Linked DNA regions of Homo sapiens: region 2 is linked to region 1. The links come from fine-mapping of genetic effects on plasma protein levels. A gene starts in region 1. The other region holds a variant in brackets. All regions are shown on one strand. Distances are between the middles of the regions. Region 1 holds the start of PDE5A (phosphodiesterase 5A). Region 2 has its middle 27 kb from the start of PDE5A.

The links. PIP is the posterior inclusion probability: the model's chance that the variant is causal. The UK Biobank Pharma Proteomics Project read protein levels with antibody pairs (Olink). The fine-mapping took linkage between variants from a reference panel, not from the people measured, so its PIPs are less certain.
Region 2: its variant is fine-mapped to the plasma level of the PDE5A protein (UK Biobank, PIP above 0.99).

What each region holds. Positions count from the first base shown.
Region 1 is chr4:119,624,645-119,634,283 of GRCh38, reverse strand. It overlaps PDE5A (phosphodiesterase 5A), which reads left to right and starts at 5,480. Exons shown (of 21, transcript NM_001083.4): 1 at 5,480-5,764. The coding sequence starts at 5,613. It overlaps LOC107986192 (a long non-coding RNA gene), which reads right to left and starts at 6,494. Exons shown (of 1, transcript NR_165235.1): 1 at 3,529-6,494. RefSeq lists silencers at 5,147-5,546, 6,767-7,046 and an enhancer at 6,587-6,636.
Region 2 is chr4:119,650,803-119,660,441 of GRCh38, reverse strand. No RefSeq gene overlaps it. Among named protein-coding and RNA genes, the nearest start is that of PDE5A, 27 kb to the right of the region's middle. The variant A/G (reference allele first, on the strand shown) is at 4,779.

The sequences.
Region 1 (9,639 bases):
CTCATGAAATAATTGGAGATTTGGAACTTTTGGTTATTAAAGGTAAAGCCACTTTGAACATTTTTATATAATTTATCTTCAGATATAAGTTTTTGGATAAATATATTTTGGGTAAATATCTATAAATGAAATTAATAGAGGAAAGGGCTTATTCTTAACTTTATAAGAAAAAGGCAAAACCTTTTTCAAAAGTGGTTATACCATTTTAACTTCCTACCAGCAATGTGTGAGAGTTCTGACTGCTACATATCTAACACCAAACATCATGTGGCGTTAGCAGTCTTTTTAATTTTGACCATTCTAGAGGGTGGAGGCAGATCTCACGGTGGTTTAACTTGCATTTCCCTGAAGACTTAGGTGTTGAGTATTTTTACATGTGCTTAGTGAACTTTCACATGTCTTACTTTATTAAGTGTCTGCTTAAGTCCTTTGCTAGTTTTTCCCCTATTGAGACATTTATCTTTTTATTATTAAGCTGTGGAGTTCTCTATGTATTCTGGATACAAGTCCCTGTTAGATAAATGTTTTGCAAACATTTTCTTCTAGTTTGTGGATTTTTATTTTCCTTATAGTGTCTTTCAAAGAGTAAAAGATTTTAATAAAATCTAGATGTTGTTGTTGTTTCCGTACAGTTAATTGATTTCTGTGTCCTCCTAAGAAATCCCTGCTGCTCCCAAGTTGTAAAGATATTCTTCTATGTCGCCTCCTAGAAATCACATTTAGTTTTTAGATCTGTTTCATTCCTAATTAACGTTTATATATAATATAAAATATTGGTTGAGGATACTATTTTTCCATATAAAGATCCAGTTGTTAAAGCATTATTTATTGAAAAAAACTTTACTTTTATTTAAAGAATAACTGGTACCTTTGTTGAAAATCAACTAGTTGTATAAATGATATTTCTAAACTCTTTATTCTATTCTATGGTTCTGTTTGACTAACCATATGCAAATGCCATACTGCCTTGATTATTATAGCTTTATAGTAAATCTTAAAGCTAGGTAGCATAAGTTCTCTAGTTTTATTCTTTTTCAATATTGTTTTGCCATTCTGTATCTCTTGCATTTCCATAGAAAATTTGTTATCTGATTTTCGCTTTCCATGAAAATGTCTGCTGAAATACGATTGGGATCATATTGCTCGGTTTGGAAAGAATAAACATCATAATAATATTGAGTCTGCCGATCAATGAATGTATCTGTCCATTTATTTAGGTCTTTTTGCATTTCTCCCAGTAATGTTTTATAACTTTTAGTGTATATTTCTTATGTATATTTTGCCAAATTTATCCCTAAGTATTTAATGTTTTTTACACGATTATAAATAATATTGTTTTCAAATTGTTCACTGTTAGTTGTATTAGTTTGTTAGTGTTGCCGTAACAAAGTACCACACGCTGGGTGGCTTAAATAACAGAAATTGATCTTGCCACTGTGCTGGGGACTAGAAGTCCAAGATCAAGGTGCCAGCAGGTTGGATTCCTTGGAGGTGTCTCTCCTCGGTTTGCAAATGGCCATTCTCTTGCTGCCTCTTCACACGGTTATCCCTCTGTGGGAGAGTATCACCGGTGTCACTTTTTTGTGTGTGCAAATTCCCTCTTCTTATAGTGGCACCAGTCAGATTGGATTAGGGACCACTCTCATGACCTCATCTAACCTTGATTGCCTCTTTAAAGGCCCTATCTCCAAATACAATCACATTCTGTGGTACTAGGGGTTAGGGCTTCAACATATGAATCTGGGGAAACAAATCAGCCCATAAGACTAGTATACAGAGATACAATTGATTTTTGTATACTGACCATTTATGCTGCAAGCTTGCTGAATCACCTCTTAATTCTTGTAGTTGCTTTGTGCATTCCTTTGGGTATTCCTCATAGATACTCATGTCTGCAAATGGAGAATGTTTACTTTTTCATTTTTATGCCTTATATTTCTTTTTTGTGTTTTTGCTTTGTTGCATTTGTTTTTTCTATTTGTATGACCAAAATCTTTAGCAGTACAGGTAGGTAACAACCAAATAATGTAGAACCCCATAAGCCACGTTACAGAGTTTGAATTTTATTTTAGCACAGTGGGAATACATTGAAGGTCTTTAGTTAAGCTGTTGCTCATGAGCAACAAATGAGCAATGACATATATGTATGTATATACACATATATATCATTGATTTTATATATATATATATATATATCTTAGTCCACTTGTGTTGCAATAACAAAATACCACAGACTGGGTCATTTACAAAAATTAAATATATATATACATATACACACATATATATATCATACATATACACATACATACATCATTGCTCATTTGTTTGTTATAAATAGCATTAACAGCATTTTTCAAGTTATATCCTGGGAGTGTTTATGATTTACTTATTCTTCAACTAATTCCATAACAAGATTTGAGGTGCTTAGAACAATTCATGCCAAGTTAAAACAAAATAATTGGGCAAATTGGGATAAAGAATAAAATGGAGTTGAAAAACAAGAGGCCCAGGTAATGTCAGTTCAAAATATGCTTACCTTTAACTACTTTAAATTTACAGGAGGTATAGTTACACATTTTGGCTGAATCTCCCAGAGACTAGAACTGTTTGAGACACTTCTGTTCCCCAATCCCTTGTGATATGTTTCTCAGGTAATAGGCCTTCACAGTAACTCCCAAACTATCATATATACCACACAGACTTGAGATTCACTATTGAGAGAATCTATGTACTGTTTTTCTTTTTTTTTCTTTTTTGTTATAGAGCCGGGGGTCTTACACTGTCACTGAGGCTGAAGTGCAATGGCACGATCATGGCTCACTGCAGCCTTGACCTCCTGGGCTCAATCCTCTTGCCTCAGCCTCTCGAATAACTAGGATTACAGGTGTGTTCCCCCATGCCTGGCTAATTTTTAAAAATTTTGTGTAGAGATGGGGTCATGCCATGTGGCCCAGGCTGGTTCAAACTCCTGAGCTCAAGTATCCTTCTACCTCTCCCTCCCAAAGTTCTGAGATTACAGGAATGAGCCACTGTGCCCAGCCTATAGATTGTTTTTCTTGAAGCAATTTTTCAGAAACCTTCCTGGTTTCTGATAATTTAACCCTTTCAGGTTAGGAGAGAAAAATGAACATTTTGATATTACCCACTGTCTTAGTCCATTTGTGTTGCTGTAATAAAATATCACAGACTGGGATATTTATAAACAATAGAAATTAATTTCTCTCAGTTCTGGAGGCTGGAAACTCCAAAATCAAAGTGCCAGCAGATTTGGCAACTGGTGAGGGCTGCTCTTTGCTTACAAAATGGCACCTTGTTGCTGCATCCTCAGCAAGGGTCAGTGCTGTGTCTTCACATAGTGGAAAGAATAGAAGGGGCCAACTGTCTCCTTTGGGCCTTTTTTTAAAAAGGCACTAATGCATTCACAAAGGCAGAGCCCTAATGGTCTAATCACCACTTAAAGGCACCTCCTCTTAATACTGTTGAATTAGGGATTAAGTTTCAACATGAATTTTGGAGGGAATACAAACATTGAAATGATTATACGTGTTTATTTAATCAAGTATCCAACAAAAGCAAATAATTCAAGCCCCAAATTCACTGCATCTTTAGTAGATAAGCAGAGTTTTAAATTACGATTGATCTCCTGTTAGGAGGAATGCATGGATTTCCACAAGAAAAAACTGTACTGAGGAGAAACTTTCCACAGTAATGTGCCACTTTTCAGTCAACGACAGACCACATATATGAGTCCCATAAGATAATACTATATTTTTACTGTACCTTTTCTATGTTTAGATATGTTTAGACACACAAATATCATTGCATTACAATTGCCTACAGTATTCAGTACAGTAATATGCTGTATAGATTTGTGGTCTAGGAGCAATAGCCTAAGTGTGTAGTAGGCTGAGCCATCTATTTTGTGTTAGTACACTGTGATGTTCAGAGAAGGATGAAATTGCCTAAGGATACATTTCTCAGAATGTATCCTGTTGTTCGGTGACGCATGACTGTATTCCATGAGCACTATAATCACTATCATAGTAACACATTAGGAGAGAATTCTCATTTCTAAATCCAATATAATTTATCACCCATTAGTTCATACTCTACTGCTTTGATTGCTTTTCTTTGGTTGTGGCTACCTGCATACAGCAGTAAAGTTTCAGAAAAACTGAAGTCGCAAAAGGTCAATTACTCAATGAAGGAAAGATAAACCATTGCATTGGGGGACTAGAAGATACTTTTAAAAGTTCTCAGATTATCAATTTAATGATGTGTTTCTATGTAGTGAATAATGCCTTAAATTCTTGCCAAGAGTATTTAGAAGGAAGTTGTCAGAAGTATATCAGCTAACTCATTTTTTTTTATATCACTGCTAATGGTGTCATTCACACATTGTGCAACCCATAATTCCAGATTTAATTCTACCAAAAAATATAGGTCATTGCAAAATGCCATATTAAAACTGCCAATGCATGACAGGAAGATGGGGATGCAGACAAAGCAAAGGATGACACCAATTCCTTTTTTAAAGAAGCAAGATAGGGATTGGACAAAAAGGCTGAGCCATTTTTAATGGATACTTTTGAGGGAGTGTTAATTCCAATTTAATTAAAATGATGCATTAATTTAAAATTGGGATAACTGGTTGCCCTCGACTGCACCTGGGTTGCGCCAGTGCTCTCGGATTAACCTAATTGTACAGAGGTGCCCTTGTTTTCTAACTTCATGCACAAAGCATTGGAAATTATTTGTTTGCTTTTTCTTTTCCAAGTAAATCTTTTTCCAGTTATGCATAAGGGAAGTTTGAGGCAATGGTTAAAGGCACTTAAGTTATAATTATTGCTGTTATCATTAACATTAAGCACGGGTATGGCTTTGTTGCAAGTTACCCACCTACACCTGCAAATCTCTCTTGCTAGCACACGCCCCAGCTCTCTCCACCCGCAGTGGTCCGTGGCTGGACCGCTTTAAGTCACTGAGCGGGCTGGGCTCTGAAGGAGGTCGGTCCCGCTCCTCCCAGACCCAAGCGTAGGGCTAGGGAAAAGCTAGGCGGGAAGGTCATTGCACTCCCAGGCCCCAGGAAAAGGGCCCAGGGTCTCATCATCTCTTACTTTCGGGCAAAACTTCCCACATCGCGACCTTCCCTCCCTGGGGCACTCTGAGAACACACCCAGTCACCTAGCGCGCTCCCCAGAAGTCGGCTTGGCACACAGCGCACCCCAGCGGCCGCGCGGCCTCCTTCCAGCCGCCGCCACTTGGCTTCCGGAGAGCTCGCCGGGCGCTGCCGCTGCCGCCGCCGCCGCCGCCTCCTGGGAACCAGGGGACTGAAGAGCCTGCGAGAGCGGAACACTGCCGGACCCCGGGTGGGGGGGGCGCAGCAGCTGCGCCTGGCCCCGCCCACCACACCTGGGCGCCCGTAGAACCGCGCGGGGCGGGGCGGGGCAGGAGGCTGGCCTGGCGCTCCGGCCGCTTTGTCGAAAGCCGGCCCGACTGGAGCAGGACGAAGGGGGAGGGTCTCGAGGCCGAGTCCTGTTCTTCTGAGGGACGGACCCCAGCTGGGGTGGAAAAGCAGTACCAGAGAGCCTCCGAGGCGCGCGGTGCCAACCATGGAGCGGGCCGGCCCCAGCTTCGGGCAGCAGCGACAGCAGCAGCAGCCCCAGCAGCAGAAGCAGCAGCAGAGGGATCAGGACTCGGTCGAAGCATGGCTGGACGATCACTGGGACTTTACCTTCTCATACTTTGTTAGAAAAGCCACCAGGTAAGAAGAGGACCCACGGAAGACCCGGGGCTGATTTCTCTCCCCTGTTGAATTGTGCCCTTCGTTCACCCCTGTTCCCAGGCCCTTTGCTTTTGAAGTAGGTCCTCGGTCCTGTTACGAGGTAGAAACCTCAACTCTAAGCGAGCACAGTCGAAAAACTCAAGTGTCGGATTTGATACAACTTGCTCACAAAGTTCAAATACAAAAATGTACTTGCCGACCTCCCACCCTCACCCCCGACCCTCTTGGTATTCCCCGGGAACATGATTATTTTCATACATCCGTGCTCACGGGCCTTCCCCTAGCCCCTCTCTAGCCCTCTGGTTCCCCAAAATCCAATCAGCAAAACCCAAACAGTTTCTGAGCCCCTTCCCTGCAGCTCCGGAAGCACCATTTCCAAGTCGGTCTTGATGGCTCCGCTCCTCCCCCGTCCCCCCTCGCCCTGGCCCTGGCTGGGCGGGGAAGCTGGGGTGAGGGACGAGTCCACGGGACAGCCCAAAGGCAACATGACGGAACCTTGCCAAAGTGAGTGCGGTTGCCTTTTCCCCCCTTCCAGTCTCCTGCTTGTCCCGCGCGCCTCCTTTCACTCGCTTTTCCGCCGAAGGCTGTGCCGCCAAAAGTAGAGCTCTGCAGAGGGGTTTGCGGCGTGCACACAAAGGGCGCAGGGGAGGCGCCGCCTGGAGCGGACCCCAAGGGGCAGCGCAGACCCCAGAGGCCAGCTCTTTCTGGTCCAGAGCCAAGCGCCGGGGCGGCCCTTGCGGAGGGCGGGGAGGAGGGAGCCTGTCCTTTTGGAGGCGGCTGCGCAGCGGGCAGTCGGGGCGCTCGTGGGAAACGCTCGCGGGAGAGTTGGGGAGGAATTGAGACTGGGAGCAGAGGGACAAGAAGAGTGGAGCAGAGAGTGCTTGGCGGGCGGGTGCCCCGAAGCCTGAGGAATTGATGCATAGTCGGGGTGCGTGGACTCCAGGACGCGCCCCTTTGCAGAAAGAGTCCGTGCCCCGCTGCCGCCTGCTCTGGGCAGCGGCCGTCGGGCAGCGGGTGCTGGCCGTCTTGGCCGGGAGGGTGACACACGCCCGGCAGTGATGGTCGAGGAGCCCGCCCGGGTTCGACGCCCGGGTCCCACTCGCCGGCGCGCGGCCGCGGCTCTGCCGGTCGCTCCCCGCCAGGGGGCGGCGCAGCGCGGGGCGAGCGGGAGGCGACGGGCGGCGGCGCGGAGGCCGGGGCCGTGAGGGAGCTGGTTCTGAGTCGCCGACCTCACCTCACCTCACCTGCGCGCGTTGTTGCCCCTACGGAGCCTCCTGGAGTCCAGGATCGGCGGAGTTCGAAAACGAACTTCCCACGTTTGCTATGTTGCCCTTTGGAGACAAAACAAGGTACTTCCTTCAGCATCCCCCTACGTCCCTTCCCACTTTTTCCGGGGGCGCGGCGGGTCTCGGGTGCTGGGTGGTGGCGCCCCGGTGGCACCAGTGGGACGATGTATCATTGAAAATTGACTGTATAACTTTTGTTGTTGTTGTTATTCTTTGCTCTCTTGCAGATGTATTAATAAGGGTCTTAAATTGGGCCCTTTTTAATCTTGTTTTGTTTTGTTTTGTTTTGTTTTTTTCCTAAGGAACATCCAGAGTTGGTGTCAATTTAGTCACTTTCAGGGTTTTTTGACAGAGGGGAAGGCTCCGGGATTAATCTTTTCAATTTAATAACCCAGCCCTTCTTTTAAAATCGTCTTCCCCCGCTTTCACCTTCTTCCTTCAAAATCCTAAATCTTGAGCGCCCAGAGGATAGCCCTGAAAGGGCACTTTTTTGCGAGTTTAGCGTGAGACACTAAGGCCATGGAGGTCTAGAATGATCGGTTGCTGTCGACTAACAGTTTTCAGGGGTCACCTGCCCCTCTGAGGCCATCTGCACCCACTTTCCTTTCACTCTGCGCATTCCCAGCCTTCTGCTCTCCTTGAATTACAGCGCATAGAATGATCAGGGGGCCAGAGAACCAGGCCGATTTTTAAAAGTATGTATTGGACCTGTTCTTTAGGCAGATTATAAACAGTTTAAAGAAAAAAAGTTATTGTTTAATAAATCAGCATAAATGTCCTTTCTTCGTTCCCTATTTTTCTTTTAAAGATGTAAACTAGGGATGGCTTGTTGGTCGTTTTTGACTAGTCATAGATAGGAACACTGCATTTTCAGAACCTACCAACACTTTGAAAGTGTAGCAACATTTTAATGGAAAATAAATGGAAAGAGCTGAGTTACATTTCTTTTCCCATTACTTTTTCTCCCAAGCAGCATAGGATCAAAATCCTATTTCTCAAATTTACCATGCTCACTGTAAAATTTAGATCATCTGAGGCTCTAAAAAAACTTTTAAAAAATTTTCGGTTAGAGTTTTTAAATTACAGTTGATGTTGGCAACAGGCTGAACACTTTCTGTGATATATATATGTATGTGTGTATACATATTCTTAAGAGGTTATGTTGAGTGTAAGTTGGAAAATGAAAGTGTAAAATATTTAATAGTGCAGGTCCTCAATTTTAAGAGTTATAATAAAGTGCTGAGAGTTGTCAGAGTAAAGAATATAACCTAAGAATTTGTGTGTAGCCAGAGGTCTTTCATGAAACAATATTCCAATTTGGTTTTATATTTGGTGGCATTAACAGGAGACTTAAAATGTGAATAAGAGGATGGACATTTGTTGATTATAAAAATGCAAACCACTAACCCCAGTGTGGTTCACATTTTGTGGTAAAAACTTATTGCATACGTTTTAACTTTACAGCTAAGGATTTTTTTTTTTAAAAGTAGGAGCTCACATTACTTTGCTTTTCCCCTCTTTTTACACTTTGTAAGTGTAAAATGAATATTGTATGTGATTCAGGAAACCCATGAAACAAAATAGTTCTGTAGATGCATGCGGCATGTTTTAAGATTTAAAATATATTTATATTCACCCAGATCGTCCATCTGCACCAGTAATCAGGCTTGCTGATAAAAACAATTTCTGCATTATTGTTGTCATTCGACATTCATGCATGATTTTCCATCCTTTTCTCAGACTAAATGATCTACACTCAATGGTAGTTATTGAACATCAAGGTTCTGGCATTCCTAAATTCTCAAACACCTGTGAATTTGGGTTGACCTTGAAAGCATTTATGCCATTATATTACATTGTTTACTATCACTGTCTTCAAGTAGAGAGCTACGCATCTTATTAAAAGCTATAGGTTGGGCCTGGCACGGTGGCTCATGCCTGTAATCCCAGCACTTTGGGAGGCCGAGGCGGGCAGATCACGACGTCAGGAGTTCAAGACCAGCCTGACTGACCAACATGGTGAAACCCCGTCTCTACTAAAAATACAAAAATTAGCCAGGTATGGCGCGCGCCTGTAATCCCAGCTACTAAGGAGAATCGCTTGAACCCGGGAGGCAGAGGTTGCAGTGAGCCAAGATTGCTCCACTATACTCCAGCCTGGGCAACAGAGTGAGACTCCATCTCAAAAAAAAAAAAAAAAAGCTATAACTTGGAGCTTTTTAGTTATCACAACCTGTTTATGTCCATTTGAAGGTGTCAATTGAATGATTCAGAACATAGTCGGTTGGCATAAAAATTAATTTGAGGCCAATAAATCACATCTGGAAAACTCCCAGGTCACTATTGTAGACAATTTGCAGTCCTGAAGGCCTCAGCTACTGTGTTAATTGAGGGCTTTAATGCGTATGCCTTTTACAACTGAAGCTTTCCTGGTGCTAATGCTGCTTAACAGCTGTTGTTATTCTTGACAGCATATTAGAATAAAGTTACCTTTCATTAATTACTAATCAGCTCTGTGATTGTGGGTGATGTTTTAGGTCATTTAATATTGTTAAGGATGACATGATT
Region 2 (9,639 bases), 26 kb before region 1:
CTCTGTCTCAAAAAAATAAAAAAATAAAAAAATAAAATATATATATATATATAGATAGATAAAATGCTTTTTACTTTTGAATGCTAGAACAAAATTAAAATAATTGTGAATATTAGTAAAAATTATATGGTGTTTAATGCTTAGTTGTACATATTTATGAGCATGATGACAACATTATTTAAGCTAAATATTCAGCTATGCACACTCGTAAGAGTAAAGTTATATTTAAGCTAGGATGTTGAAGGTAAGGTTGTGTAGAATGGGTAGGTTAGGTTATACACAACTATGTAAGCACATGATAGCTTAAAGGAAGGGTCAAAGGGTCTTTGAGGAGCGAATAGTTTAATGTCTCAATAATAATAATAACAATAATGAAAATTACAGTTATACCAATATAGTTCCAGGGTGAATAAATAGTAAATCAATGAATGAAACATTCAGTCAATGACTAAGCTAAAAGCCTCCAAACAAAACTGAGAAATGCTTAAAGTGTTTGAAGGCAAGATCTTTAGATGAATATTTACATAAGCATGGAAAAACACATAGCAACCACTTCATCAGAATATACATGGAAATGTCAACAGAAGACTCTCAAAATCCCTAACACAGCAGATAATGGCCTGAAGCATCTGGCCATATCTTATCAGCTTGCAGAATCCATCTGGACAAATCATTCTTGTCATTTTTTATGTAAACTGGAATAATCCTCTCTTTAACTAGAAACTAAAGTGCTGGCTACAATCACAGTCACCTCATTTGTGGTTTGTAAGACTCAACCAAGGGAATGTGTGCAGAAAAGTACAAACAGCCACTATAACAAATGTCACTCCACCCTACCACATGTTCAAATAAATTTACCTAGTTTTTAAAACCTACTACAAATGCTGAACACCATGTTGGGGAGCAGAAAATTAAGTTCTCAAATAATACTAAGTTGGGTGGGTTAAGCATTGACAAAAACAAGCTAATTACCAGGAAAGATTGGTTATGAATATAAGAAAAAAATAGTCTAAAGAGTCACAAGGGACTATAAATTAACTGTGTTATCCCCATCGCTAACTATATACTGTCATATAACACTTACAAGTAGGATGGATGGGAAGATGAAAGCTAGAAAATATTTTCCCCTCTAAATTAACATAGGTTAAATCTTAATTCAGAAGTTTGCATTTGGGAGGCTTATACTGCAAAAAAAAAATTGAAATATAAGTGACAATCTTAGGAAGAATAAGAAATAATTTAAAATATGACAAGCTCTATGAAACATTAAAGATGCTTAGATAAGAAAAAGGATTGTTCTGTTTTCTGAAATGTGTAACTCCCACTTATTTCAGCATAATATAAAATGAAATATTCACTTGCTGATTTTAGAGAGAATGGAACTTTTTATAACCCTTTTATGGGAGGATGCTATCAAATCCTGTATAACCACAATAAGATATCAGTTCATACTAAGACAGCTATAATTTAGAAGATGGACCATAACAAGTGTTGGCAAGGATGTAGAGAAATTGGAACCCTCATACATTGCTTGTGGGAATGTAAAATAGTGTGATCATTATGGAAAATGATTTGGTGGTTCCTCAAAAAGTTAAACATAGATTTGTCATATGACCCAGCAATTCTACTCCTAAATATACAAGAAAATTTAAAATATATGTTTACACAAAAACCTGCACATGAATGTTCATAGCAGCATTATTCATAATAGCCAAAAAGTGGAAAAATCAATTGAAGAATGAATAAACAAAATGTGGTATGCTCTTATGATGAAATACTACTCAGTCCTAAAAAGAAATAATACATGTTACTACATAGATGAACCTTGAAAACATTATATTGAATGAAAGAAACCAGACACAAAAGGCTACATATTGTATAATTTCATTTATATTAAATGTCCAAAATAAGCAAACTATTAAGACAGAAAGTCGATTAGTTGGGCTGCATGGGAGGCAGTGGGAAGTGACAACTAAATGGGTCAGGATTTATTTTGAAAGTAATGAAAATGTTCTGAAATTGGATAGCGGTGATGGTTGCATGATTTTGTTTTAGAATATACTAAAAACCATTAAATTATATACTTTATTTGTTTGTTGTTTGTTTGTTTATTTTTGAGACAGAGTACCCAGGTTGGAGTGCAGTGGCGTGATCTCGGCTCACTGCAACCTCCACCGGGTTCGAGTGATTCTTGTGCCTCAGCCTCCAGAGTAACTGGGACTACAGGCATGCCCCACTATGCCTGGCTAATTTTTGTATTTTTTGTAGAGACAGGGTTTCTTCATGTTGGCCAGGCTTGTCTCGAACTCCTTACCTCAAGTGATCCACCCACCTCAGCCTCCCAAAGAGCTGGGATTGTAAGTGTGGACCACCACACCCAGCCTTAATCATACACTTTAAAAAGGTGAATTTTGTGGTATATGAATTATATTTCAATTTAACAGAAAAACTTGTATATGTGGGAAGTAACTAATTTTAGAAAAATAACTATTATCTTTTAGAAAAAGAAATTTTGTCTTATAATCTAAACTTCTTCAGCTTATAAAATATCCATCAAAAGGATAGTGCACATCAGCTGTTCCCTGTTCTGTAGAAAAGATGAAATAAAAATAAAAATGCTAAAATTATAAGCTTCATAATACATGGTTTCTTCCTGTATAAATTTTCCTGTCCAGTGGAGTAGGCAGACATACAGACAAATAATGACATGACATGAGATACATGGAAATAAATAAAGAGATCTATACAAGGTATGATAACAGAGGAGAGAGGATGTACATCTGAGTGGCATCAGGGCTTAAGAAGCATCAAAGATAGTATAATTTCATCTGAGTCTTGATGAAAGAATGCATATTCACCAGACACACAAGGTGAAGGCCAAGCATTTCAAGTTGTGGTAACACATGCAAGACAGAGATCTGGAAGAGCATTTCAGCTTCATAGATCTGCAAGTCTTTCTGTTGGGCCAGAACATAAGAGCTTTTGCAGACAAGCTGATGAGGGTTAAGAGGTATTATTCTTACAATGAAAGCAACCATAACCTCCCTCATGGGAGATAGAGTCATCAAAGATATTGTTCAAGGATGTGAAATATTCAGATTTCAATTTAGATAGATTATGCTGGCAGAAATGTAGGGCAAGAATTGGAGGAATCCAAGAATGGAGTCCAGGAGATCCTTAGAGAATAAATGGTTAAGGCAAGGAAATGATGAAGTGGAATAAAGATAAGGTGACCAGCTACAGAGGTACTTAGAAAGGCATGTGAACTGGGGAAAGAGGAGGAATTGAGAATGACTCATCTCTGACTTAGGCAGGAAGAACAAGGTTTGTTTGTGTTTTTTGAATTTGTAATCAAATTGCATTTAAACTTTAATATGGAATTTGAGGTGTCTGTTCCAGGTATAAGAAACCTAGAAGGCAGAGCTTTGAGTTTGCAGTTCAGTGAAGAAAGTCTGGGCTGGAGATATGAATTTGAGAGGGTTTAGAATATACCTCAAGTAGTGGGAATGAATGAGGTTGCCCAGGAAAAACAGAAAAAAGGACAGAAACCATCAGAAGCCCAGATTAGAGGTAAGACAGTACAGAGATGGCACATATTTCTCAATAAGTATTTGTCAAATAAATGAGCATATAAAAATCATATTTGCTTCCAAGGATAGCAGACAGGGTGAGGGGAGGAATATGGAATCAAAAGAGGTGCTATCAAATCTTTTCTAATTGTTTGTATATCACAATGAGAAATAAAAATCCATTTTTCTCAACATTGTCTGGACATATTATGTTGGGAGTTTTCAGCTCAGAGATGAGATTGCCAGAAAATAAGTATGAATAGAGAGAAGGGAGCTGAAGACTGAGTCCTGGTCAGGAGGCAGAGGCAGCTCAAGCAACAAAGACAGACAAGGCAGCCAGTGAAATAGGGCTCAAAGCAGATCAGTGTAGTGATTTGAAAACCAAATGAAGAAAATGGTGAAGGGATGGTCAGCTGTGCCAAATGCTGCTGATAGGTCAAGTTAGATGAGGACTGAGAATTTTATGCTGGATGTGGCAAGACAGAGGTCATTTGTGACCTTAAAGAGTGCTTTTCTGTGGAGTGGAAGGGAAGAAAGCCTAACTGCAGTGAGTTCCAGAGAGAGAGTTCTGTGAGAGAGTAAAATAAATTTGGCAAATACCTTAAAAAGAATATGTAAAAAGTTACATAGATGGGTAAATAGATAGCTGGACTCCAATTTTGCTTAAATGGGATTTACATATCCAGATAAGATTATGTAAGATTTTATTAAAATTCTACAAACTGACAGGTATAGAAAGATATTTGTTTTGAAACATTTTGTAGAAATATTGCTTAAAAAAATCAAGGAGGTTCAGGTAAAAGACCCAGGCAGAGAATGAGGAGGAGAAGAAAAGAGAAAACAGGGAATTCTACCATAAAGGGGGAGCAGAAAAATGGGCAAAGCTGAGGTGGGATGTGGAGTGGAGGGAGGGCTCTTTATAAATATAAATAAATATATATAATATATATTACGTGTAATATACACACACACATACATATATATATAAAAGATTGGAAGGTATCACAGCATGTATTGATGCTTTGGGGATGAAATAAAGTGTGATTATACAGAAGAGGCAGGGGATCAGCAAAGGCTCACAGAAATTAAGGAGGAACAGGACCTGGTACACAAGCAGAGAGGCAAGAGCCATGCTTATCCCCTAGAATGGCAGGAAAGGCAGAGCATGTGGGTCCAGCTGTAGGAAGGGTAATAGATTTGGGGGAATGT[A/G]ATTTTGCAGATAAGGAAAAAAGAGAGTCATAAATAACTTGCCAAGAACCAGGAAACCAGAATAGCTAATTTAATATCCATCTCAAAATTAATGTGGCATATGTTAAATGTTGATCTAAATGGGACATAGTATCATTATTTAAAAATAATAGTATTATCTTTGTAAAGTAGTTCTAGTCTCTTTGTAAGTGTAAGAACAAAACGCTATAAAAGTTTGAATATAGGTGGAAGCAGTTGGTTTTAACATACCAAATAATGAAAGCATTTACATGGGAATCCATGTGAAGGAACTTCTAATACAACTGCAGGATTTCTATGGTCAGTTGACTAGCCTGACGTTAAACAGGAAGCCATCATAGCAATATTTATTTTAGGGATACATATCCAAATCAAACAAGCTCAGAGGGATACACTTCCTTGCAAAATGAATGGAAAATAAATAGTCTAATAGCTATCTTCCCAGTAATAGTATATTTTCACAAATCGCTTTTAAATAATGACGATTTTAGATAGGAAGTATTCAAAATTCTTCATCAATGAATACACAAATAGATGAATAAATCTTAAAAAAACATTATGGATCCTATGAATAGTTGAATTATTCTCAATAAATGACTTACCTGCCCTTCTAGAACATTGCCCGTTTGGGTCCTAAAGCAGCAAAAACAGTTTTATAAATTCTAAATCCTTTAGCTTTTGTAAAATCATAATAATAATATACGGGATAAATCTATCTGAATAGAGTCACATTTTTACTAGATACTGGGAAAGGCTTGAACAAGCAAGGTGATTTGGATTTCAAAAGGCATTTAGGAGATATTTTATCTCTTAAATTTAAACTTAATAGTGGATACGATTATCATACCTATTCAGGTTTTTACTGACTTGTTTTGCAACTACATTTTCTTTACAGTTAATAATTAGGTTTCCTTTAAATTAAAAGGTTTGGATGCTGTTTCTACCTTTTATAAGGGGATAATGTGGCTTAAATAATCTGGGCTTTTAAGTCCAACAGGGAAAATAATTGTATTTAAATAAAGCACTTTGTATATAGTGATAGTCAATAAATATCTGCTAATTTGGTTTCAACATTGTAGCTATTTCACATGATGTAATAAATGTTTAACATAATGAACTATGAGTTCAAGGATGAGTTGGAAAACAGTTGCTATAAGATTCATCAGGGACAACACAGTGAAAAAATTCTGACCAACAGATTGGATGTCCTACTTTTTATTGAATTATTTAAAAGATAAATTTATTGTTTATTTTAGTAAATGCAAAATATTAAGACGAAATCTCTCTGGAATTCCAAAAGCCAATATTCTAGCTTTCATAAGAGCGGGATTAGTTTTTACCACTTTACTCCAAATAAATACGCCATGAATACTAGTTGGGATGGAAAATAAGCAAACTTAAGAAGACATAAAAACTAATTGCTTTTTGTTTCATTTTTGAGATGGCGGTCTCACTCTGTTGCCCAAGCTGGAGTGCTGTGACCAATCATAGCTCACTTCAGGCTTAAACTCCTGGGCTCAAGTGATTCTCCTGCCTTAGCCTACCAAGCTTTTAATATATTTTTTAAGAGATGGGGATCTCACTATGTTGTCCAAGCTGGTCTTGAATGCCAAGCAATCCTCCTACCTCAGCCTCCTGAGTAGCTGGGATTACAGGTTTGAGCCACTGCACCTGGCCCAAAAATTGCTTTAAAAAATATATATAGTAACTTGATTATAGGCCATAAGTAATCATTTAACAGATAAAAACTTTTAAAGTTTTTAAGTAAATTAGGTTCCTATTTTATACTCTATAGTATATTCAAGGCATGAGCTTACTTTTGGAATATAAATATAAATAAAATGATAATTCACAAATTGCTAATTGCTCTTCCCTGCTAGGTCTTTGAACAAAATGCACATGGCATTTTAGGTTAATTGCTTAAGATAGTCTCAATTTGAAACCCCATATTGATAGCTCTGTGATCATTTAAATTCAGAATATCTTTTTTAAATTATGTATATTTTCATCATCTACTTAAGGGTCAAATGTTGTTTTTGAGCTTAAAAAGTATCATTCCTAATTGAAATAAATTTTAATGGCTGTGATTCCAGTGGTCTTTAAAAGTGCATTAAAAGTAATTTGTGGTCTTGGCTTAATTTGTTGGCTTTTTAAAATCTTTTAAGCCTTTTTAAAAAAATTGTAGTAATTCCATATGGTGTTAAAATATGCAAAGGTTATACAGGAATTCATACATAAATTATGTACCCATCTTCACTCTTCACTTTTCTTTGCCAAATAAATTATTACTTGAGTTTCCTGCTATCACAGGATACATATAATTTCACAAAACATACAATATACAATGTTAGGGAACTAGAACTTGATGACTTCAGATGCACAGGCATATTTGAATTGCTAAGTTTTTAAACTAATGTGGTCTTCAGAAGGGCTGTATTTGACTTGGCAGGCCCCTATGTATAAACTTCTGGGTTTGCAAGACAGTCCTACCATTTTGATACCATGAGTCAGGCCTGTCTTTTTTTAATGTGTTGTATTGACTCAACACCAGAGTTATATTTACAGCAGAACTGTTGATTAGAATAAAATGTGGATGGTGTATCGGTTAGAATAGTTTCACCTACAAATAACAGAAAGCCCAACTCAAACTAGCCTAAACAATCAGGTATTAATTGGCTTCTCGTCTAGAAGAGAGACTGGAAATATTTTACTTCTGGAAGAAGAGAAGGAGGGCAGGTGATTTTATTCTGTGGTTCTAGCTCATTTCTCTGTTCTTAATAGAAGCTTCATGTTCAGGGTAGTAGCAAAACAGCTATAGAAGGATCCTGACAATGTTCGAAGAAGAGGGTCACACTGAGAATCTCTCTCATTACAATGATGAATGCTTCTCAAAGAATCCTTTGAAAATCCACCCTAATATTATTAATTGGGTCACACATCATCTTCTGTACCAATCACTGGCTCTAGGAATGAACTTAGCCTTAGATACAGCAAAGTCATCCCTGGATCCAGCAGTGAAGTCAGGTCCTCCTTAGGCCCATGTGAGGTGTGAGACAGTAGAAGATACCTGCATAAGGCCTGGATATTGTTAGATGAAGGAAAATAATGAATGCCAGTAGAGAGCAGAAATGTCTATGTCAAATGGTGATTGGTGGTCACATGTAAAATGTAGCCCTCCAAAAATCAAAAGCAATACTCTTCCATACATAAAGGATTTTTATTCTGTAGCTGTAGAATGACTCAGAGTTGGGAGACTTTTTGCAATTCCATCTTTCAAGTTCATGGGGTGCTTTTAAACTTTTTTTGAAAGGGGATACATACCAGGTCAGTCATTCTGTAGCAACTATTTTTTAAATCAGTCTGTAACTTTGGAAATGGTATCAAACATTCCATTTGTTTCCCCTATTTGTTACTGTGCATTTCAAAGTATATATTTGCTAACCTTTATTCAACCAAACTTTAACAAGCACTTCCTATATTTAATGCATAATACTGGGCGTTTTTAAATACATCTATTATACATGTTTGACACATGTATGATTCATGTTAAATTGGTAGAGGAGGTGGAGTTTAAGATGGATATGCTGAGCTACTTGCTAATAGGAATGAGTGATTTATTGTCGCAAAATAAGAGATATTCAAATTGTTGTTACATTACATCTTCTATTTATATTATATTTTGATTTTGTCCCTAGACTAGCTACATTTAAGCATCCTACTAGTAGTATTCATACTTCACTTGTCACTTGATTTGTGTGACCTTAATTGATGTTTATACAACCCATTATATGATTAGAGATCATCCTCATAAACATCTAGAAGAAATTCTTAAGCTCTGTAAACCTACTTCCTCATTTATAAAATGGAAAGAAAATCTACCTTACTGAATGTGGGAAAGTTTAAATGAGATGAGGTGTGTAAAATCTTAGGGCCATGTCTGACATAAAGTATTCCCTCAACAGGCCAGGTGCGGTGGCTCACGCCTGTAATCCCAGCACTTTGGGAGGCTGAGGTGGGCTGATCACAAGGTCAGGAGTTAGAGACCAGCCTAACCAACATGGTGAAACCTTGTCTCTACTAAAAATACAAAAATTAGCCAGGTGTGGTGGCGCATACCTGTAATCCCAGCTATGCAGGAGGCTGAGGAAGGAGAATCATTTGAACCTGGGAGGCAGAGGTTGCAGTGAGCCAAGATTGCACCACTGCACTCCACCCTGGGTGACAGAGCAAGACTCTGTCACAAAAAAAATAAATAAATAAAAAATAAAAAGTGTTCCCTCAATAAAAGATAAGCAACTTTTGGGAAATGCCTATTGATGCAGACTCCCAATTAAAGAAGTTAACATTCTAAGGGTAGGAGGCATATAAATGCAAGTCCTTTAATTTCATAGTACTGTATTACAGAATTACTGTAATTACTGTGTGTGTGTGTGTGTGTGTGTGTGTGTGTGTGAGTGTGTGTGTTTATTAACGGCAAGAGTAAAGAATATGGAGACTGGTATAGTCTAGTTTAAATTTCCAAAAGTACCAAAAGCATAGGCTAGAAATCTCTTTGTAAATTTTCTGACACTAAACAAATGTTGTCTGTAGCTAGTATGACCTGCTCCAAAAACTCAGAGAATGAAACAATTGTACATATTTCTTATTTTATCCTAATCATTCAATCAAAAAAATCTTTTTAATAGATAGCCCAGCATACCCTCTTAAACTCTACCCCATCTTTTCCCTTACCCTGACCTTCTTTTCCCATTTACAGAGAACCTTCAGGGATCGTTCAATCCTGAATTGGTCAATCCTTGCCCAGAGACCAGGGGGAAAGGGAAGTGAGGTCCAGTCAGCCTAC